Regions from separate parts of the Homo sapiens genome. Here region 1 is linked to region 2. A link means that fine-mapping ties the variant in region 2 to the plasma level of a protein whose gene starts in the linked region. Region 2 holds a variant in brackets. A gene starts in the other region. All regions are shown on their reverse strands. Region 1 holds the start of NCAN (neurocan). Region 2 holds the start of LOC124902448 (a long non-coding RNA gene).

Evidence for each region. PIP is the chance, under the fine-mapping model, that this variant and not a neighbour inherited with it causes the effect. The UK Biobank Pharma Proteomics Project read protein levels with antibody pairs (Olink). The fine-mapping took linkage between variants from a reference panel, not from the people measured, so its PIPs are less certain.
Region 1: NCAN starts here. The variant in region 2 is fine-mapped to the plasma level of the NCAN protein (UK Biobank, PIP above 0.99).

Annotation. Positions count from the first base shown.
Region 1 is chr19:19,208,252-19,218,546 of GRCh38, reverse strand. NCAN (neurocan) reads right to left here and starts at 6,589. Exons shown (of 15, transcript NM_004386.3): 1 at 6,483-6,589; 2 at 1,521-1,600. The coding sequence starts at 1,593. RefSeq lists enhancers at 3,939-4,439, 4,440-4,940, 6,493-6,787.
Region 2 is chr10:72,023,711-72,034,005 of GRCh38, reverse strand. It overlaps LOC124902448 (a long non-coding RNA gene), which reads right to left and starts at 6,695. Exons shown (of 2, transcript XR_007062187.1): 1 at 6,523-6,695; 2 at 5,087-5,546. The variant TTG/G (reference allele first, on the strand shown) is at 5,623.

The DNA of each region.
Region 1 (10,295 bases), not on the chromosome of region 2:
GAGCCAAGGTCGCACCATTGCACTCCAGCCTGGGCAACAAGAGCGAAACTCCATCTCAAAAAAAAAAACAAAAAACTATTTTTAGAGATTGAGTCTCACTCTATCGCCCAGGGTAGAATGCAGTGACATGATCATGATTCACTGCAGCCTCAAGCTCCTAGACTCAAGCAATCCTCCCACCTCAGCCTCCCGAAAGTGCTGGGATTATAGGTATGAGCCACTGTGCCCAGCCCCTTATTATTATTATTCTTTTATTTATTTATACTTTTGAGATGGAGTCTCGCTCCATCTCCCAGGCTGGAGTGCAGTGGCATGATCTCAGCTCACTGCAACCTCTGCCTCCTAAGTTCAAGCAATTCTCCTGCCTCAGCCTCCCCAGTAGCTGGGATTACAGGTGTGTGCCACCACGCCTGGCTAATTTTTGCATTTTTAGTAGAGATGGGTTTCACCATGTTGGCCAGGCTGGTCTCCAATTCCTGACCTCAACTGATCCACCTACCTTGGCCTCCCACAGTTCTGGGATTATAGGGGTGAGCCACTACACCCAGCCTTATTATTATTTTTTTGAGTCTGACTCTGTCACCCAGGCTGGAGTGGAGTGGCATGATCTCGGCTCACTGCAACCTTCGCCTCCCAGGTTCAAGCGATTCTCATGCCTCAGCCTCCCGAGAAGATGGGATTACAGGCATGTGCCACCACACCTGGCTAATTTTTGTATTTTCTGTAGAGACGGAGTTTCACCATGTTAGGCAGGCTAGCCTGGAACCCCTGACCTCAAGTGATCTGCCTGCCTCAGCCTCCCAAAGTGCTAGAATTATAGGCATAAACCACTGTGCCTAGCCCCTCACTTTATTTTTATAAGGACAGGGATTTCACTCCAGTGCCACTGATTCACTGTATGGCCCTGGGAGAGGCATTTTCCTTCCCTGAGCCCCAGTTTTTCCGAAAGGTAAAGCAAAAGACAGCTAATGAAAAGGAAATGGTGTTTGCAGAGTACCATCTTTGTAACAGGCACTTTATAGCAATCAGCTCATTTGATTTTCATAACCATCTGCAGAGTAGCAATGTCTCATTCTCTTTGGGGGGAGTTGAGGAAACTGAAGTTCAGAGAGATAATTATACTTGCCTAAGGTCACAGACCAAATCTGTGAGGGATTTCTAAAACCTGGGCTCTTGACCACCAGTAGAGGGACACAGACCTTTATTTCCATCGCTCCACCCTTGGCAGACATCACTAATCAATCTCTGCACTATTCTCATTTCTTTCTTTCTTTCTCTCCAGTTCATCTGAGCAAAACGATGAGAGGCGGGAATCTCCAGCTTCTGCTGACAATGACTAAAAATAACCTCTTAGGTATCCTGTTCGCTTTTGACTGTTCAAAGACCTTTTAAAATCTATTCTCATTTTATTCTCTAGCCCATGCCAGGAGACCAGCAGGAGAAGGCTCTGGAATTCAAAAGCTGCCCCATCTTGTCCATCCCCTAGACCCCAATCTCTCCCTCCCCACAAACCAACTCACCCTGTTCCCCAGCCACAAAGAGCAGCATCTGCAGCATCAAAAGGCCCAAGGCCCAGACAAACGGGGCCCCCATCCTGGATCTGGAACAAAATGGAGAGGGAGGGAGGGGTGAGCCACAGCCCAACCCTCCCAGATATTCAGCATTGCAGGACCAAACTCCCCCACTCTACAGATCAGGAAACCAGGGCTCAGAGAGACCAGTGTGTTATTCTAGGTCACAGAAGGAGCCAGCAAAGGGCTGAGCCAGAATTCGAACCCAGGGCCACTTGACCTCAGAATAGCAGTGGCTGGACGCGGTGGCTCACGCCTATAGTTCCAGCACTTTGGGAGGCTGAGGTGGGAGGACTGCTTGAGGCCAGAAGCTTGAGACCAGCCTGGGCAACATAGTGAGATCTTACCTCTATTTAAAAAATTAGCAGCCAGGCGTGGTGGCTCACGCCTGTAATCCTAGCACTTTGGGAGGCCGAGGAGGGTGGATCACGAGGTCAGGGGTTCGAGACCAGCCTTACCAACATGGTGAAACCCCGTCTCTACTAAAAATACAAAAATTAGCTGGGCGTGGTGGCAGGCGCCTGTAATCCCAGCTACTCAGGAGGCTGAGGCAGGAGAATTACTTGAACCCGGGAGGTGGAGGTTGCAGTGAGCCGAGATCACGCCACTGCACTCCAGCCTGGGCGACAGGGTGAGACTCTGTCTCAAAAAAAAAAAAAATTATCTGGGCTTGGTGGCGCACACCTGTGGTCCCAGCTATGCAGGAGGCTGAGGTGGGAGGATTGCTTGAGCCCAGGAGTTCAAGGCTGCAGTGAGCTATGATTCCACCACCACACTCCAGCCTGGGTGACAGCGCGAGACTGAAAACAAAACAAAACACAACACAACAACAAAAAACAATCCAAGCAATGAAGTCTGTGGTCAGAAGCCTGGGTGCTGGTAGTGAATCAAATCTGGAATTGGCTCACTGTTCCTTTTGTGTGATCTTGGGCAAGTTGCTTACCTTCTCTGTGCCTTACTTTCTTTGTGGGTCAGATGGGGATAACATCAGGTAGTTGAAAGGAATGGATGAGTCAATACATATAAAATGCTTAGAACTGTCTCATGCAGTAAGGGGTACATTTTAGCTGCTGCTATTATTATTACCGACCTTAACACAGCCAAGACTGAAATACCATTTTTCAAGTCAGCCTCCTCCATCAGACTGGCGGCTCCTAGAGGGCAGCAGTCTGTCCCAGTCCTCCCAGCATCCTCAGTCCAGGCAGCAGGCTGGCCTCTAAGCCATCCTTTAATCTGGGTTTGCTGGCTGACACGATTCGCAGCTTCAATTCCAGGATTTGGTTGTCACCAAGATTCTATTCTTGGTTTCTGGGATTTTGGAGGAGCCGCCAACTCCCAGCTGGAGGAAGGGGCTCACCCCTGCCCACCCATCCTCCTCCTGACTTCACACAGCTCAACAAAGATACTTCTTAGGCCCACAGAGAAACTTCAGTTGTGGGTCCATTTCCCTATAGGGGCTAGGACCCATAGGGATAAAGTGGACAATTATTAAGCGCCTACTGTGAGCAAAGCCCATGCCAGTCGTTGGGACACAGCAGTGCATTTCCTGACTTCACATTGTTCCAGAGACTAGGAATCCTGGGGAGGTGGTCCCTCCCCAAAACCTCCCACTCCTGCGAACCCCGGTCACCAGGGCTCAGGAGGTGGGCGCAGATGGAAAATTAGAACATCATCTGCAAACCCAATCCTTGCTCCCCGCCCCCATAAGAAATTATCCCTGAGGAAGGGGTGTGAACGGAGTCCAGAAGGGGAGGCTGTATGTGACAGCTGTCCCTTTCCCCAGTTCTCCTTCCCAGCTCCCAGAGTCCCCTGCTGGGAGGCCGGCCTGGGACCTGTCCGTGGTGCTGAACTCTGAGGCGGCAACGCAGCGGCAAAGCCCACCTAGTCCACCCCTGCCTCCTGCCTGCTAACACGATGCCTCAGGGACCAGAGAGGGCTAGAGGTTTGCCTCAGGCTGCACAGCAGGGTAGAGGTCAAAGCCAGACCCTGGACCAGTGCTCCCAACTACCAACTTGTAAACCTCAGCAACCTCTGCCTTCACCAGGCTGTTCTCATTTCTTCCCCTTGGAACCCTGAGCAAGTGTGGGGTCCCCTCATGGCTGTTCCAGGCCTGGCCAGGTATTAGAGAGAGACAGGACTCCGGGTTGCACCTGCCCCCAGCAGGGCCTTACGAGAGGACAAGGCCAGAGAATTCTCTTTCTCTCTCTCTCTCACACACACACACACACACACACACACACACACACACCCCGTTAACAGGTCAGACTACATCCAGATAGCTCTGCTTCTAATCCGGGACAAGCTGCTTCAATCTCTCTGTGCCTCAGTTTCCCCACCTGTAAAATGGAGATTATCCAGCAAGTACCACCTGCAGCTACTGTGAGGATGAAATGACCTAAGACTTGCAAAGTCCTAGAAATGTTAAATTTAAAAACAGCTCTTTAGACACAAAGCCTCATGTATACGCTAAAAATATACTGAGGTTGCCCAACATGGTGACAGACACAGTTTCAGGTGCACACCCCCCACACACACCCTCCCACTCCCTTCCACTCGCACCCTCACACACCCACACCCTTCTCTTAAAATACCTCCTCCCCAGGGCGGCCAGAGATGAGCATTTACACAGCTGTCTGGGGCCCGTGCCCTCATGAATAATGTACAAGCCTCATGCATATGCAAGCAGGGGCCTGCGGGGTGCTGGAGGAGGGGCAGCTCGGATCCATGTGAATGTGTGTGTGTGAGAGAGTGTGTGTGAGTGTGTGTGTGTAAGTGTGTGTGTGTCCCCTCCTTCACTTCACCCCCACCTCAAGTCTCCGTTAGCACTGAGTGAAGGTGAGTTTGCCAATGGGCATTTGTGAGTGTTTGTGACTGGGTGTGTGTCCGGGGTGTTGTGTCCTGGCAAGGGTGTGAAGGCGGTTGTGCCATGTGGTGGGTGCATGTTGTGTGTGTGAGCCTGCAGCAGCTCCGTGCACCGGGTGGAGCACATGGGACCTAGTGTGATCTGTGGATGTGTGTGAGTCTGAGTGACCCTCAGCAGGGGGCTGTGCGCACATGTGTGTGTTTCTGACCTGAGAGTCAGGGTGTATTAGTGTGCATGGGTGTGAATGTGGAACTCCGTGGAGGAGAAAGGGAGATGGGCTCAGTCATCATCCCGGGCTTCCCCTTGGGGATTTCAACCCCTGCTCAAGCTTTCCCTGTTAGCGCCCCAACTCTGAACACAGACCACGTCCCACACCCCCGTGCCAAGGGTGCACACTGCCAACCGCATGGAAAGAACCCTTGGCCCCTCCAGATACACAAGCGGGACACACACAGCCACGCACCCCAGACACAGACCCTGGGGAAACACACACTCACACAGATTCACAGTGACATTAACAAAGAGAGACAATATGGGCACTTACAAGACAGGCGGCGTGTCTTCTGCACAAAGACACACACCCACAGTCTCGGGCCCCCCCCCCCCCACATAAACCCCTTGATGAACGGAACAGCATCAGACATAGCTCCTCACTCACACGGCGATGCCAGCCCCTGGCACAAACCGAGATGGATAATTGTGGCCTTGGTGACCGATGGACACCCATCATTTTGCCACATGGTGATGTGGCCCTCGGCACAAGTTTTCTGACAAAGACACAACCACAGTCACATCAGACTCACAGGGGACCCTAGAACCCCTGGGCATACTCCCCCTCCCTGCCTGTCTGGGGTGGACACACACACAAAACCCCCATATCCTTGAGGGGGAACTTGATTTCAGAATGTCCATCAGCTATTGCGACGGCTGGGTTCTGGGGTCCCACAGTGCACCCACCCCTTCCTGCCTGCCCTGCCCCCACGTCCCCCGCTGGGGCCCAGAGCCAACCCTCTCCCTGGCCTGGCTGTTTCTCATTGATGCTGCCTGAGAGGAACAAAGCCCCACGCGTAGGGATGGGGGTCTCTCCTGCCCAGACAGGGCCCTTACTTCCCAGCCCCTTACTTCCCAGCCCCTGTGCCCCCAAACCAAGCCAGCGCTTCCACATGTGTCCATATGGACAGGTGGAACTAAAGGGGGTGGGGGTAGGGGTCTGTGTCATGCTGTAAGGACGTGGGAGGCTGTGAAGGTGCTGGGGGACAGCCCCCCCTCTGAGCTGGTATCCCTCACAGGTCCTGGGGATCCATAGCTGGGGGGTCTAGGGGACCCCCACCCAACATTCACCTGGGACACCCAGTGTGTTCCCTGGGATAAGGGACAACACCTCAACCCAAGGTCTAAGGGAATAACGGGGAACCACGTTGGGATGGGGACCCCCAGGACCTCCTCCCTGAGTCAGAACGTGGTGACCGGACCTGACCCAAAAGGACAGGGAGATGGCAGGGAGCCCCTTCCCCATGGCCGTTCGCTCTCAGCGCAGATACCCTTCCATTGGGCACAGGGTGATCTGGGGGCCCCCTCCCCACTGCAGTCCGGCCCGGAATCCTCCATTCAACCGCAAATTGGGAATCCCTACTTAAAATCCTGGGGTGTCTCGGCTGAGATACGGGGGTGCCCTGTTCCAGAGTCCCCCATTCGGCATCTGGGTGTCCTCTTCTTCCCTCCAAACTCGGGGGGCCCCTCCCCTAGCCCTGTTTCCCATTGCTCCCTCCTCAACCCTGAGACCCACCCCCAGCCCGGCCCCCTCCCCACCGGGGGGTAGTCTCCGGATTCCGCGGACAACCTTCCTCCCCAAATGTCTGTTCACCTAGCATTCCCAAGCCCCCTCCCAGTTCGCGCTCCCTCCTCAACCTAGGGCTCCCCTCCCCCGCTTCAGCCCCCTCCCCATTCTGGGGACTTCTCCCTGGTCTCAGGTCCTCTCCCTAATCCTGAGCTCTGTCTCTAATCCCGAAGTCTTCTCCCGCAACACGGCCCCCTCACGGATCCCCCACCTGGCTCCTAGCTCGGACGCATCCCGGGGCGGCCGCCGGGCACAAAGGACGCTGCGCTCCGACTCAGCCAGCTCCGCGCCGGGTCCAGCCCCTGCGCCCTGCGCTCCGCTGGCCCCAGCGCCGCCTCAGTGCTTATAAAGGGGCCGCGAGGGCTCTCTGCGCATGCGCCCCCGCCAGCCCGAGGCCTCTGGCTGCGCGAGGGAGGGGGCTCCCCTGCCTAAAATCCCCACCCCGCCCATTTTTTGGACACTCACCGCACCCAGGAGAAGATGGCATCGATTCTCCTCCCATTCTCTTTGCCCCAGGAACCGCGTTAAACGTCCCCATTATGCCCCAGGATGAGGCCGTCCCATTTTACAGGTGGGGAAACTGAGCCCCAAGGAGGCAAAGTCGCTTCCCAAGGTCACGCACAGAGGCAGAGCTGGGATTCGAACCTCGCCCTGCCTGATTCTCCAGGACTCACGTTCAAAGCAGTTTTGGCTACAATTACTGGTTTACCCCATTTACAGAGAGGAAACTGAGGCACGGACGAGACGGGGAGACTCCTTGTTCACACAGCTGGTAAGAGGCACGCAGGGTGGGAGTCCAGGTGTGTGACACCCCCGAGCTGTTTCCAGCAACTACAGCCAGATTGTATCATTCATTCATTCACCTTTGTCTGATCAGCATTTATGTAGCACACTCTATGGACTGGGTACTGCTGTTGACACATGAATAATTTTGCTTTATGCAGAGGCATAGGCATGTCCCTGCCATGAGACATGAGACCCCAATCTTTTTTTTTTTTTTTCAGACGGAGTCTTGCTCCGTCATCCAGGCTGGAGTACAGTGGCACGATGTTGGCTCACTGCAACCTCCACCTCCCAGGTTCAAGCGATTCTCCTGCCTCAGCCTCCTGAATAGCTGGGATTACAGGCACCTGCCACCACACCCAGTTAATTTTTGTATTTTTAGTAGAGATGTGGTTTCACCATGTCAGCTAGGCTGGTCTCGATCTCCTGGCCTCAAATGATCCGCCCGCCTCAGCATCCCAAAATGCTGGGATTACAGGCATGAGCCACCGCGCATGGCCTTGAATTACACATTTTAAGATGGTGAGTTTTATGTTATCTGTATTTGACCACCATTAAAAATATGGTAATGAGGGCTGGGTTCGGTGGCTCACACCTGTAATCCCAGCACTTTGGGAGGCCAAGGCGGGTGGATCACCTGAGGTCAGGAGTTTAAGACCAGCCTGGCCAACATGGTGAAACCCTTTCCCTATTAAAAATACAAAAATTAGCCAGGCGTGTTGGCAGACACCTGTAATCCCAGCTGCTCAGGAGGCTGAGGCAGGAGAATCGCTTGAACCCAGGAGGCAGAGGTTGCAGTGAGCTGAGACCATGCCATTGCACTCCAGCCTGAGTGACAGAGTGAGACTCCGTCTCAAAAAAAAAAAAAAAAAAAAAAAAGCCATGAGGAGGGAAATGTGCCCAGAGAGGGCAGGCTTTGCCCCTGCCTTCCTTCCTATGGTCGTGGTGTTTCTGTGCTGAGAATGGGCTCGCAGCGCTCCACCCTGGGTCCTATATCTGTGAGTGTGTGTTTAGCATCTCTGAGGGTGCGTGTCCATCTGGTAGGAGGATAGGCAAATGAGGGACAAGATAGCTTCCACAAGGTTATCAAAGAAAGGAGGCCTTGGCCAGGTGCCGTGGCTCACGCCCATAATCCCAGCGCTTTGGGAGGCCAAGAGGACAGATCATTTGAGGTCAGGAGTTCGAGACCAGCCTAGCCAACATGGTGAAACCCCATCTCTAATAAATCAAAATTAGGGTGTGGTGGCGGACGCCTGTAATCCCAGCTACTCGGGAGGCTGAGGCAGGAGAATCGCTTGAACCCTGGAGGCGCAAGTTGCAGTGAGCCGAAATTGGGCCACTGCATTCCAGCCTGGGCAACAGAGTGAGACTCCATCAAAAAAAGAAAAAAGAAGAAGAAAGGAGGCCAAGCACCGTGGCTCATGCCTGTAATCCCAACACTTTGGGAGGCTGAAGCAGGCAGATCACCTAAGGTCAGGAGTTTGAGACCAGCCCAGCCCAGCCAACATGGTGAAACCCTGTCTGTACTAAAAATACAAAAATTAGCCAGGCATGGTGGTGTTCACCTATAATCCCAGATACTCAGGAGGCTGAGGCAGGAGAATCACTTGAACCTGGGAGGCGGAGCGTGCAGTGAACCGAGACTGTGCCACTGCACTCCAGCCTGGGTGTCAGAGCAAGATTCCATCTCAAAAAAAAAAAAAAAGATTATCAAAGAAAGGGTAGGAATGAATGAGGGATAAGGGGGGACCCCAGGTGAGCAAGGGGTAGCCCTGGGGTCCAAGATGATACAGCGGGAAGCTGCACTGACTGTTTGACTCTGTGTCACAGAGGAGAGATGGAGGTCAAGGATCCCAGCTGATGTGAGTGTCTGCAGGTGACAGCTGTGTCAGCAGCACCCAAACAGCATGCAATGACTAGTCGGTGAGGCTGGAGCGTGCTGGGGGGTTGGCTGTGGCTCACACTGGGAAAGACGCTGAGAACAGCTGCGTGACGTGCGTGAGAACCGAGTAGCTCAGCCTCCACAAGTCTGGGGTTCAAACCCCCTCCCTGCCATTCGTAACAATGTGACTCTGAGTGAGCCATCTCATCTTTCTGTGTCTCAGTTTCCCCATCTGAAATGGGGATAGTCCAGGTGCCGGTGGCTCATGCCTGTAATCCCAGCACTTTGGGAGTCAGAGGCAGGAGGATCACTTGAGCCCAGGAGTTCAAGACCAGCCTGAGCAACACAGTGAGACCCCCATCTCTACAAAAAATAACTTAAAAGTTAGCAGGACATGGTGGCACACATCTGTGGTCCCGGCTACTCGGGAGGCTGAGGGGGAAGGATCGCTGGAGCCCAGGAGATTAAAGCTGCAGTGAGTCAAGATTGCATCACTGTACTCTGGTCTGGGTGACACAGTGAGACCCTATTTCAAAAATGAATAAAATAAAATGGGGGGAGGGTGGGCGCGGTGGCTCAAGGCTGTAATCTCAGCACTTTGGGAGGCCAAGGCAGATGGATCATGAGGTCAGAATTTGAGACCAGCCTGGCCAACATGGTGAAATCCCGTCTCTACTAAAATTCAAAATTAGCTGGGTGGGGTGGTGCACACCTGTAATCCCAGCTACTCAGGAGGCTGAGGTAGGACAATCGCTTGAACCCAGGAGGTGGAGGTTGCAGTGAGCCAAGATGGCACCACTGCATTCCAGCCTGGGTGACTGAGTGAGATTCCATCTTGGGAAAAAATTAAATAAATAAATAAATAAAATGGGGGATAATGAATGTCCCTACGTTACCGGTTGCTTGGAGAATGAAATGGGAAGTAAACACACAGGCAGGGACTGCTGTTTATTTTACAGGTGCTGGGGAAACTGAGGCTTAAGGAGCTAGGATCACCTGCCCGAGGATGTACAGAGTGAGTAGAGACCAGGTGGAAGCCAAGGTCTGTGGGCGCAGAGCTGAGCCCCAACCCCACCTATCCTCATCCTTCTGCTTCCCCCGCTTCTCCACTCCTCCCCACCCCTTGCCCCCACCCCCCGGCTCCTCGCTGGTGCCAGGGCTGAGCTTAGAGGGGCTGGCCTGGGGCCCAGGGGCGGGCTGTTGCCGGGGGCTTGAATGAGGCAACCTTGCCTGGGAATCTACTGGGCTCAAAGAGCTATTTATAGGCCTGAGCTGGGATTGGGCACCCCTCCCCAGCCCTGAGTGCCTTCTCTGTCCCCACCACCCCACTGGGGCCCTGGGCCAGGGGCTGCTGCCAGT
Region 2 (10,295 bases):
GGGAAGGGGCTTTATACAATCTTCCCTTGATCTGTGTGATCTTGGGCAAGTGGCTTAATGTCTCCATGACTCAGTTTCCTATCTGTAAAATGCAGGTGATCATGATACCTACCCCAGGATTTTTGTGAATGTTGAATTATTGTCTAATGTCCTTCCAACAAAGCACAATAAATAATAGCTGTATTTATCATTATCATTATTATTATTTGAAACTAGGTTAGAGGACCAGGCTTCAACATAGCTGTGCTTTTAGTTTCACTGTTTGTTCATGTTATTTTTTAAAATCAGTTAAAGCCCCATGTGAGAGATCATATGCGGGGAGTGGGGAGGATTCACCAACAAAGGTTGGAGAATTAATACGGGGATGAAAAGCACCCAGGGAGAGACACAGGGCTGGTGTGTGTGTGTGTGGGGGGGGGGGTCATCCCATGACACAAGAGTCTGGAGTGCCTGGGAGGGAACGGGCCAGAGTCTAAGGCTAGGCTCTCTTCAGGGGAAAGGTTTGGAAAAGGAGCATTTCTTTTCTTTCCTTTTTCTTTTTATTATTATTTTTTTGAGACAGGTCTGTCATCCAGGCTGGAGTGCAGTGGCACGATCACAGATCACTGCATCCTCGCCCTTCTGGGCTCAAGCGATCCTCCTGCCTCAGCCTCCTGGGTACCTGGGACTACAGGTTCATGCCACCACTCCCAGCTAATACATTTTTTAATTTCTTTGTAGAAATGGGGTCTTGCTATGTTGCTAGGGCTGGTCTCAAACTCCTGGGCTCCAACTATCCTTCTACTTTGACCTCCCAAAGTGCCAATGTTACAGGAAAGGGGTCCCCACCCCATGTCCCAAGAGAGGGTTCTTGGATCTCGTGCAAGAAAGAATTCAGGGCAAGTCTGCGGTGCAGTGAAAGCAGGTTTATTAAGAAAGTAAAGGAATAAAAGAATGGCTACTCCATAGACAGAGCAGCCCTGAGAACTGCTGTTTGCCCATTTTTATGGTTATTTATTGATGATATGCTAAAAAAAAAAGGGGTGGATTATTCATGCCTCCCCTTTTTAGACCATATAGGGTAACTTCCTGATGTTGCCATGGCATCTGTAAACTGTCATGGCGCTGGTGGGAGTGTAGCAGTGAGGATGACCAGAGGTCACTCTCGTCACCATCTTGGTTTTGGTAGGATTTAGTGGCTTCTTTACTGCAAGCTGTTTCATCAGCTAGGTCTTTATGACCAGCATTTTGTGCTGACCTCCTGTCTCATCCTGTGACTTAGAATGTCTTAACTATCCGGAAATGCAGCCCAGTGGGTTTCAGCCTCATTTTACCCAGCTTCTATTCAAGATGGAGCTGCTCTGGTTCACATGCCTCTGACACTGGAATTACAGGTGTGAGTCACCTTGCTGGCCTCTTTTCCCTTTAGTAACAGCCAAGGGGCTGTTTCTGTGTCTTCACATGTGACAGATTCACGTGTGACACATCACTGGGCTCCGGGCTTGCGCCCAGCCTCGTCTTTCGGCCCAGTCACAGGAATAAGGTGCTCCGGGGGTTGTGAGCAGCCTCCTGGCACAGAGCAGGACAGGGTGTTGGGGGGCCAGGGAGGCTGGCAGTGGGGACTGGAAGGAGGGTCCCATGCTTTACCCCCCCACACACCCAGGGCTAAGAAGAGTGCTGCCCTGGAGTCCTGGGGCCTGAGAGGAGGGGGATTTAGTCATCACTGTTCACCCTCCCCCAGTATTCCAGAGGAATTGCAGCCATCTCTGTGGACAAGGCAGCTTGTTGTCTGTGAGCACTTTATGATTTTGAAATTCATCCCTGCCATAATTATAAATTAACATTTGGAGGGCTTTCTACATGCCAAGCTCTTTTCTAAGCCCTCCTGTCCGCCTTTTTTTGGAGTCAAGGTACCACTCTGTTGCCCAGGCTGGAGTGCAGTGGCTACATCTCAGCTCACTGCAGCCTCGATGTTCTGGGCTCAAGTGATCCTCCCGATTCAGCCTCCTAAGTAGCTGGGACTACAGGCATATGCCACCACGCCGGGCTAATTTTTAAATTTTCCATAGAAATGGGATCTCGCTAGGTTGCCCAGGTTAGTCTCCAGCTCCTGTCCTCAAATGATCCTCCTGCCTCGGCCTCCCAAAGTGCTGGGATTACAGGTGCGAGCTGCTGCATCCGGCCTCTTTTTAAGCTCTGTCTGCATTATCTCATTCAAATCTCACAACATTCACAACGTTCAGGGCTGAGAAAACTGAGGCTGTGAAAGGGACAATCACAAGCCCCAGGTTGCCCAGCCAGGGAAGCACTGTGAGCCGGGACGGGAACTCAGCTCAGGGGAACGTCAAAACTGTGTTCTTAACAACAGTCAGCCCAAACATTGGGTCCCTAAGCCCATGGCTTCAAGCTGGCCCTTCTCTGTGGGACAGTAGCAGCCCTCCCATCTGCTGATGTTTCTCTCTACCAGCCCCTCAGCATCTGGACAAGGCAGCTGACCCCTTCCACGTGCCCACATACCTTGGTAGCAGAGGGACCTCTCAGCATTTTTACTGGCTTTTCAGATTAAAAAAAAAGTTAGCCAGGTGTGGTGGTGGGCACCTCTATTTCCAGCTGCTTGGGAGGCTGACGCCCGAGAATTGCTTGAACTCGGGAGGCGGAGGCTGCAATGAGCCGAGATTGCGCCACTACACTTCAGCCTGGGCGACAGAGTGAGACTCCATCACAAAAAACCCCCAAAACAAAAAAAACAAAAACAAAAAAACTGGGAGAAGAAGGAAATGGGGAGGAGTTGAGCGGAGGCTCAGGAGAGTCAGGCAAATGAACCACAAGAAGCTGGGAGAGGGGCTGATCTTTCCATCTCCTGTGAAGGCAGCCGTGACATCCTCCACTGGAAGGATGAGTACCTGGGGCTGGAAGGGGTTGCACAACTTGCTCAAAGCCACCAGCCTTGTTCCTGACAACCTGACACCCTCACAGACCCACCATTGTCCCCCTGCCCAGAGTTCCAGCACTGCGTGGGGTGAGGCGGGAGGTGAGGCAGTGTTTGCAACAGCTCAAGGCCGCAGTCCAGGATGACCCTGCCTCCCCTTAAGCTGCCTGCCCGAGAGAACAAACACAAGGCTGCCGCCAGAACTGTTTGTTCCAGCCAAGCCCCGAAGATAGGGCCCCTGCTCCCACTCTCTGTAGGAAGATAGGAGCCTCACTCCCATGGCGCCGGTTAGCATTGGACCAAGCTCCTTCTCCCGGCTTTTTGTAATGTATCACTTTGTCCCATCCATCCTAATACACACACACACACACACACACACACACACACACACTCACAGGAGGACTGGTCAGGGTTCCCTGCACATGACCCTCATATTTTGTAGGGGAAACTGGGATTCATTTCGGATCATCCACTCTTTCCTCCCTCCTAAGACCATGTTCCTCATATTCCGCCACCTCAGACGAGGTGGGGCTCAGTCTTTGTTCAAGCCGTATTGCTTCAGCCTCATAACTTCAAGACCTTGAGCAAGTTACTTTACACCTCCAAGCCCTGGTTTCCTCATCTGCAAAGTGGGAATAATAAAATAATCTAGTTTGCAGAGTTGCTGAGAGATTGTTTTATTTTTGTTTAGTTTCTGTTTTGTTTTGCTTTTTTTGAGAAGGAGTCCCGCTCTGTTGCACAGGCTGGAATACAATGACGCAATCTCGGCTCACTGCAACCTCTGCCTCCCGGGTTCAAGTGATTCTCCTGCCTCAGCCTCCCGAGTAGCTGGGATTACAGGTGAGCACCACCAGGTTGGGCTAATTTTTGTATTTTAGTAGAGACGGGGTTTCACCATGTTGGCCAGGCTGAACTCCTGACCTTAGGTGATCCGCCCACCTCAGCCTCCCAAAGTGCTGGGATTACAGACGTGAGCCACCACGCCTGGCCAAGATTGTTTTACGTCAACAGCGAAACAGTATCTGGTACAGAGTAGGTGTTAAACAAATAATTGCTATTGTTATTTTGTTATTATCTGGTCCTCACCTCTATCCTCAAAAATAGCTCCAGTTGACTCAGTTATTCCTCTTTTATAAATCACTACCAAAACCAACACTTATCAAAACACCACTCTGTATCCCATAAATATATACAATTATTATATGTCAATTGAAAATAAAAGGGAAAAAAACCAATACAAACAAATAAAAAACACCCAGGTGTGTTTCAGCATCTCTCGTCTCCTTGGGGCACTAACTCCTTGCCACACTTCACCTGCATGAGAGCTGAGTAAGCTTCTGGAGCTTTGGAGAAAGTCTGGGGTCAGGAAATTGGGAGATGTTACTGGCACCTGAGAGGGGGAAGCTGTGAGTGGGGACAGGAGAGACTGCCCAGCTGCAGCTCAAGTCCAGAGTGGTTCAAAGGGCATGGCTGGGGGACAGAAAGCGTATACTCCCTTGCCTCCTGTACTAGTGCAGGAACTGTGAAATAGGCATTCAAATATGCAACTGGCAGGAATGTCATTTGTACAACCATTTCAGAACATTGGTTGGTAGGCTGGGATAGTGGCTCAGGCCTGTAATCTCAGTACTTTGGGAGGTTCAGGTGGGAGGACTGCTTGAGCCCAGGAGTTAGAGACCAGCCTGGGCAACATAGGGAGACCCCATGTCTATTATTTTTTAAAAACAAAAACAACAACAAAAAGAACATTAGTTGGCAGCATGAATTGAGAGATACTAAAATGTAGATTTTTGTTGTTGTTGTTTTGAGACAGAGTCTCACTGTGTCGCCCAGGGTGGAGTGCAGTGGCGCGATCTCGGCTCATTGCAGCCTCTGCCTCCTGGGTTTAAGTGATTCTCATGTCTCAGCTTCCCAAGTAGCTGGGATTACAGGCATTTACCATCACACCGGGCTAATTTTTGTATTATTAGTAGAGACGGGGTTTCACCATGTTGGCCATGCTGGTCTCGAACTCCTGACTTCAGGTGATCCACCCGCCTTGGCCTCCCAAAGTGCTGGGATCACAGGCGTGAGCCACCACACCCAGCCTAGATATTCTTTGATGCTAAAATTCTGTTAACAGAAATGTATCCTAGGAAGATAATAGAGTACGAGAAAAAAAAACCCCAGAGATGCAGATTGAGTTTTTTACATAAAGAGGTTCATGTTATGCTATTTAGAATAACAACAATTTGAAAGTAAATCTAATGCCCCAAATTAATGAGTAGTGGCACGACGTGTGACACCTCTGATTTAGCGAGGATTAGATTCACTCTTGAGTAATAGAGCACCCAAAATTACAGCAACATTATGAAACACAAACTTCACACACATTCCAGAGATAGGCTGTCCAAGGCTAGCGTGGTGCCTCCATAATTATCAAGGACTCAGGAGACGTCTATCCAGTTCTGCTGTCCTCAGTGAGTGGCTTTTACCCCACACTCCAATATGGCGGCTTGAGTCTTGCCATTATGTCTGCATTTGAGCTGTCATGAGGTGGAAGAAGCAAAAAAGAGTACCACTCTCCCTTTATGAAATCGCACCTAACGCTTCCACTTACTTTCCATTGGTTGGACATTAGTCACATAGGTACACCTAGCTGTAAGAGATGCCAGGAAAGACGATAAGACAATAAAGAAACACCTTTCTTTTTCTTCTTCTTTTTTTTTTTTTTT[TTG/G]AGACAGGTTCTCGCTTTGTCGTCCAGGCTGGAGTGAGATGATACAATCATGACTCACTGCAGCCTCCACCTCCTGGGCTCAAGTGATCCTGCCACCTTAGCCTCCCAAAGTGCTGGGATTACAGGCATGAGCCACCGCACCCAACCTAGACAGCTGACGCTGACCCAGAGCCCCAAGAGGTCAGGTCTCTGGCACCTTACAGCATTGGGGTTTCGGTCCATTTTTGTACCACAAATAGGTCTAAAATGATTTTGAGTGTGACTGTGTCTTTTATTTTCTGATAGACGGGGTGCTTTTAAATTTTCCCTTTTAGAGGCAGAGGTTGCAGTGAGCCGAGATCACACCGCTGCACTCCAGCCTGGGCCACAGAGTCAGACTCTGTCTCAAAAAACATACGTTAAAAAAATTAAAAAAATAAATTTTCCCTTTTAATGTTTTGCCCGTTTATTGCTGTTTCTGGGACCACAGGGCCTCAAAGCATGGATGTGAAACTAACCTGACTGGAAGCCCTCCCCACCTCCCTTGACTGCATTTTATAGATGGTAAAACAGATTCAGAGAGGCAAGAGGGCTTGGCTGCGGGGCTGCCCGAACCCAGTCGTAAAATGACTCACAGGACTATTGACACCTAGACTTTAAAACTTTCCAGCGATTTTCCTCCCATTTGAGATAAGGGGAATCATATAACAGTTCAACATTTCTCTCTCTCTCTCTCTTTTTTTGTTTTTTTCAATTAGGCTGGGAGGCTCCATGGGGGAGGTTATGGGCAAAGACGAAGATTTAAGAAAATGAAGATGGAATCTGTGTGCGCTGGGGCTGGGAAGACTGAGGGGTAGGAATCAACACACACATGCACACAGGCACACACACACCTGTATGCACATACATGAGTGCTTACCCGTGCCCTTTTGCCAGTTCCCACTCGGCTTGTTTGTATCAGACCCAAGGAGGCAGGATAGGTCAGCAGTCACATCTTCCAGATCAAGGTCTACTGTGGCATCATAAGGATTAATTTTTTTTAATTTTAATTTTTTTTTTTTGCGATGGGATCTTGCTCTGTTGCCCAGGCTGGAGTGCAGTGGCACGATCTCAGCTCACTGCAACCTCTGCCTCCCAGGTTCAAGCAATTCTCCTTACAGGCACTTGCCACCATGCCTGGCTAAGTTTTATATTTTTAGTAGAGACGGGGTTTCACCATGTTGACCAGACTGGTCTCGAACTCCTGACCTCCTGATCTGCCCATCTTGGACTCCCAAAGTGCTGGGATTACAGGCGTGAGCCACTGCGCCTGGCCGTCATAAGGATTAATTAGGATATTGCCTATAATTGCCTGGCCCAGGAGAGGTGAGATGTGCATGTCTTCCTCCCCAGTCCTCACCGTGGCTGCTTGGTCACTGGCTTGCCTGCTTGGTTTCTCTTTGAGGCTCCTCTGAGTAGGATTGGCCAGCATCCATGGGCCACTCCCTTCCTGAATGTACTGGGACCCAGTCTGCAATGAAGTCATTGTTTGAAGCATCTGCTCTTTGTTTGGTAAATCTTCCCACAGGGGGCTGGAAGCCCACAGCTCCCCTCTGCCAGGCCTCGGCTGGAGGCAGGGTCCACAGTCTTGCCTTGGCATCCTTGTGATTTATGTCCATGTGGGTCTCGCCAGGCGGAGGGATAAGGGTCATAGGATATCGGCTATTCCACAGACCAAGGCAAGTCGCTTTCTATCTGCTCAGTCGTAAGGAAGGCAAGTCATTGGGGATCTCTGCACATAGACAAGATGAGGGAATGTTTCTCCCAGAACAAAGGAAAGAAGGGGAGGCACTTGAGAGAAAATCAGAGCAATAAGATGTCAAGGAAACTGTAGACTCAGAGCCAAGAGATGCCACCAAGCGCTCCTGCCCCAGAGCTCAGCCAGGCCAGGCCACGTGGAGACGGCTCCTGCAAAGCTGCAGAGGGGCTAAGACCAGGATGTGGAAAGGGAACAGGAATTAGATGAGGTTGAAGCAGCTGGAGCTTAGCAAGTACTTAACTGAGAGCTGGATGTTTCTGCTTATTTCTACTTTTATGTTATTTATTTTTTTTAGAGTCCACGTCCTGCTGAAAGTGCTTATTTTTATAATGTGCTCTCGTAGAAGATTCTCCATAACTGGCCTTGATGGTGTGAACCATGGCTCTTCTGGGATACCCTGGGTGCTTTTAAACAACAGCTGCCAAAGAAACCCCACTCCAAACCAACCAAATCAGTCTCTGAGGACCGGGGGTGGGGTGGTGGTTCTCAAAGTTGGACCCGGGGACCAGCAGCATCAGCATCACCAGGGCACCTGTTAAAGTGCAAACTCTCAGGCCCCACCCTGACAACAGAATCCAAAGCTGTTAGGGTGGGGTCCAGAGATCTGTGTTTTAACAAGGCCTTCAGGAGCAGGGCGTCGCATACCCAGGAAAGTGTGAGAACTAGTGGGAGATTTTAACTTGTGTCCGGTGCTGAAAACCACTGGGTTTGTTTAGTATTGAGTTTGGGGACTCTTTCTTCCCTGTAGAGGGCCAGAGTTCAGAATGAGGAAAGCTGGTCTCTCTCTACTCCCTGTAGGGGAATGGGTATAATGACTTTACCATTCATTGAATCTCTTCTACATACATAAGTGAGAATAAGGAAAATCGATCGCCACAATTAATGTCCCTGACCACTGTTCTATCTCCAACACCAGTAACAGAAGAGATCCACCCCACCCCCGCGCAGGGCAGCCTTGCTAACTCTCCTGAAATGCTGAGACGTCCAGGACCCCGTCCCATAGCTGCGTCATGGCTAGCTTCTCTTAAACCAAGTTCACACCCTGCAAACACAAAGCCTTTTTCTTAGGTTTTGGCACCTCCTTCGCAACCCTGATCCTGAAGGAATTAATTTCTCATTTGGAGTAGTGGAGTTGTTGTGGGAAGTGGGTGGAGTGGGAACTTCTAGGAATCACAACTTCTTTCATGCACTTCTTTCTCTCATTTTCAACCTGATGCTCCCGTCAGCCCTTCCGACATGCTCGTCAGCCACAGTCACTCTGCTTTGTCTGGGGTCATGAGACATCCGCAGGCAGAGGGGCTACAGTATCCCTACAGGCCAGACCAACAGGAGGAGGGACTCTAGCTGAAGCTCCATGACCCTTCTGCCCTCCAGTCTGGGAGGAGGGGGCGTGTGTATGTGTGCGCGCGTGCGCGTGTGTGTGTAACAACTACAAGGTGTCCCAAATCCTGTTCTCCCATATCTGGAAAATCTGTGACCTACATAAAGCCAGTTCCTGCCTAGTGAGGAACAACAGGAAAGGATAGAAACCAAGGGCAGGTGGTCGCTTCTGGAGGCTGCTGCTGGCTTCAATGGGCATGCCTCTGTCTGGCCCATAATCTTGATTTCTGAACACATGGGTCTCAGCTCACCTGCCAGATGCGCCCCGGTTCCCACTTGGTTATTCACCATCCTCCTCTTTCCTGTCTGTCTCTTTGCCTCTATGGGTCCTTGCTGGCAACCCCACAGGGTTTCTCCTTGGCTTCTTCTAAGTCTGCTGGGCAAAGGAAGATGTCTTGGATTTATTAAATCAGCCCCATATTGGGGCCAGATGTTCCACAGCAAATGAGGTGGTCAGGACTGAAGTCAAGAAACTAAGTGAGGAAACAAGGAGGCCCCAGTGATGAACGATGGTCTCTCCTCAGCCCTTACTGAAAAATCTCCTTTCTGTCCTATTTTGCTCTCGGTATGAGCTCTGCTCTTCCTCTCCTCCCAAATCAAACATTTGGTGATGCATTTCTGCAAACTTCCACGTCTCGCTCTGGGGCCAGGAGACTGGTGTTTGCTGGGCTGTTTCTTCCAAGCCTTCTCTGCAGAAAAGGGCACGGAGGAGAAAACACGGGAGTTCTGGCAAGTGTGGGCTGAAGGCCTCACAGTAAGTCTGAGAGCGAGCGCCAACCTGGCAGGGAAGAGCTGGTGGGGACAGCTCTCGGGGACTCTGGGTGGCCAGAGGATATGGGCAGAGGCCAAGGCTTCTCACCTTCCTAATTGCAAAGGTTATATTAATAATTATAACAGTAATTAGTCATGGTGATAACAGTAACAGTAATGGATAACTGTGGGGTACTGTGCCAGGGGGAGCACACGGGTTGTATCATCTCACTTAGAGCCTTCCAACACCCACCCAGCCAGCGTCTTGGCTTTATTATTATTCTCTCCATCTTGTACCTGAAGACTGCGGCTCAGAGAGGTCTCAGCTAACCCATGATGGAATTGGGATTTGAACTCAGGCAGCCTAACTCTGAAGCCCAAGCTCTTAACTGCTATGTGATGACACAAGGAATACGTGTTTGTTAAAGAAATTGTTAACAATTCAGATAAAGAGAGGGAAAACCATAAAATACTCACCATCTACTGTCAACACTTTGGTTTCTTTCTTTTTTTTTTTTTTTTGAGACAGAACCTCGCTCTGTCACCCAGGCTGGAGTGCAGTGGCGCCATCTCGGCTCACTGCAAGCTCCGCCTCCCAGGTTCACGCCATTCTCCTGCCTCAGCCTCCTGAGTAGCTGGGACTACAGGCACCCACCACCACGCCTGGCTATTTTTTTTTTTTTTTGTATTTTTAGTAGAGACGGAGTTTCACCGTGTTAGCCAGGATGGTCTCGATCTCCTGACCTCGTGATCTGCCTGCCTCG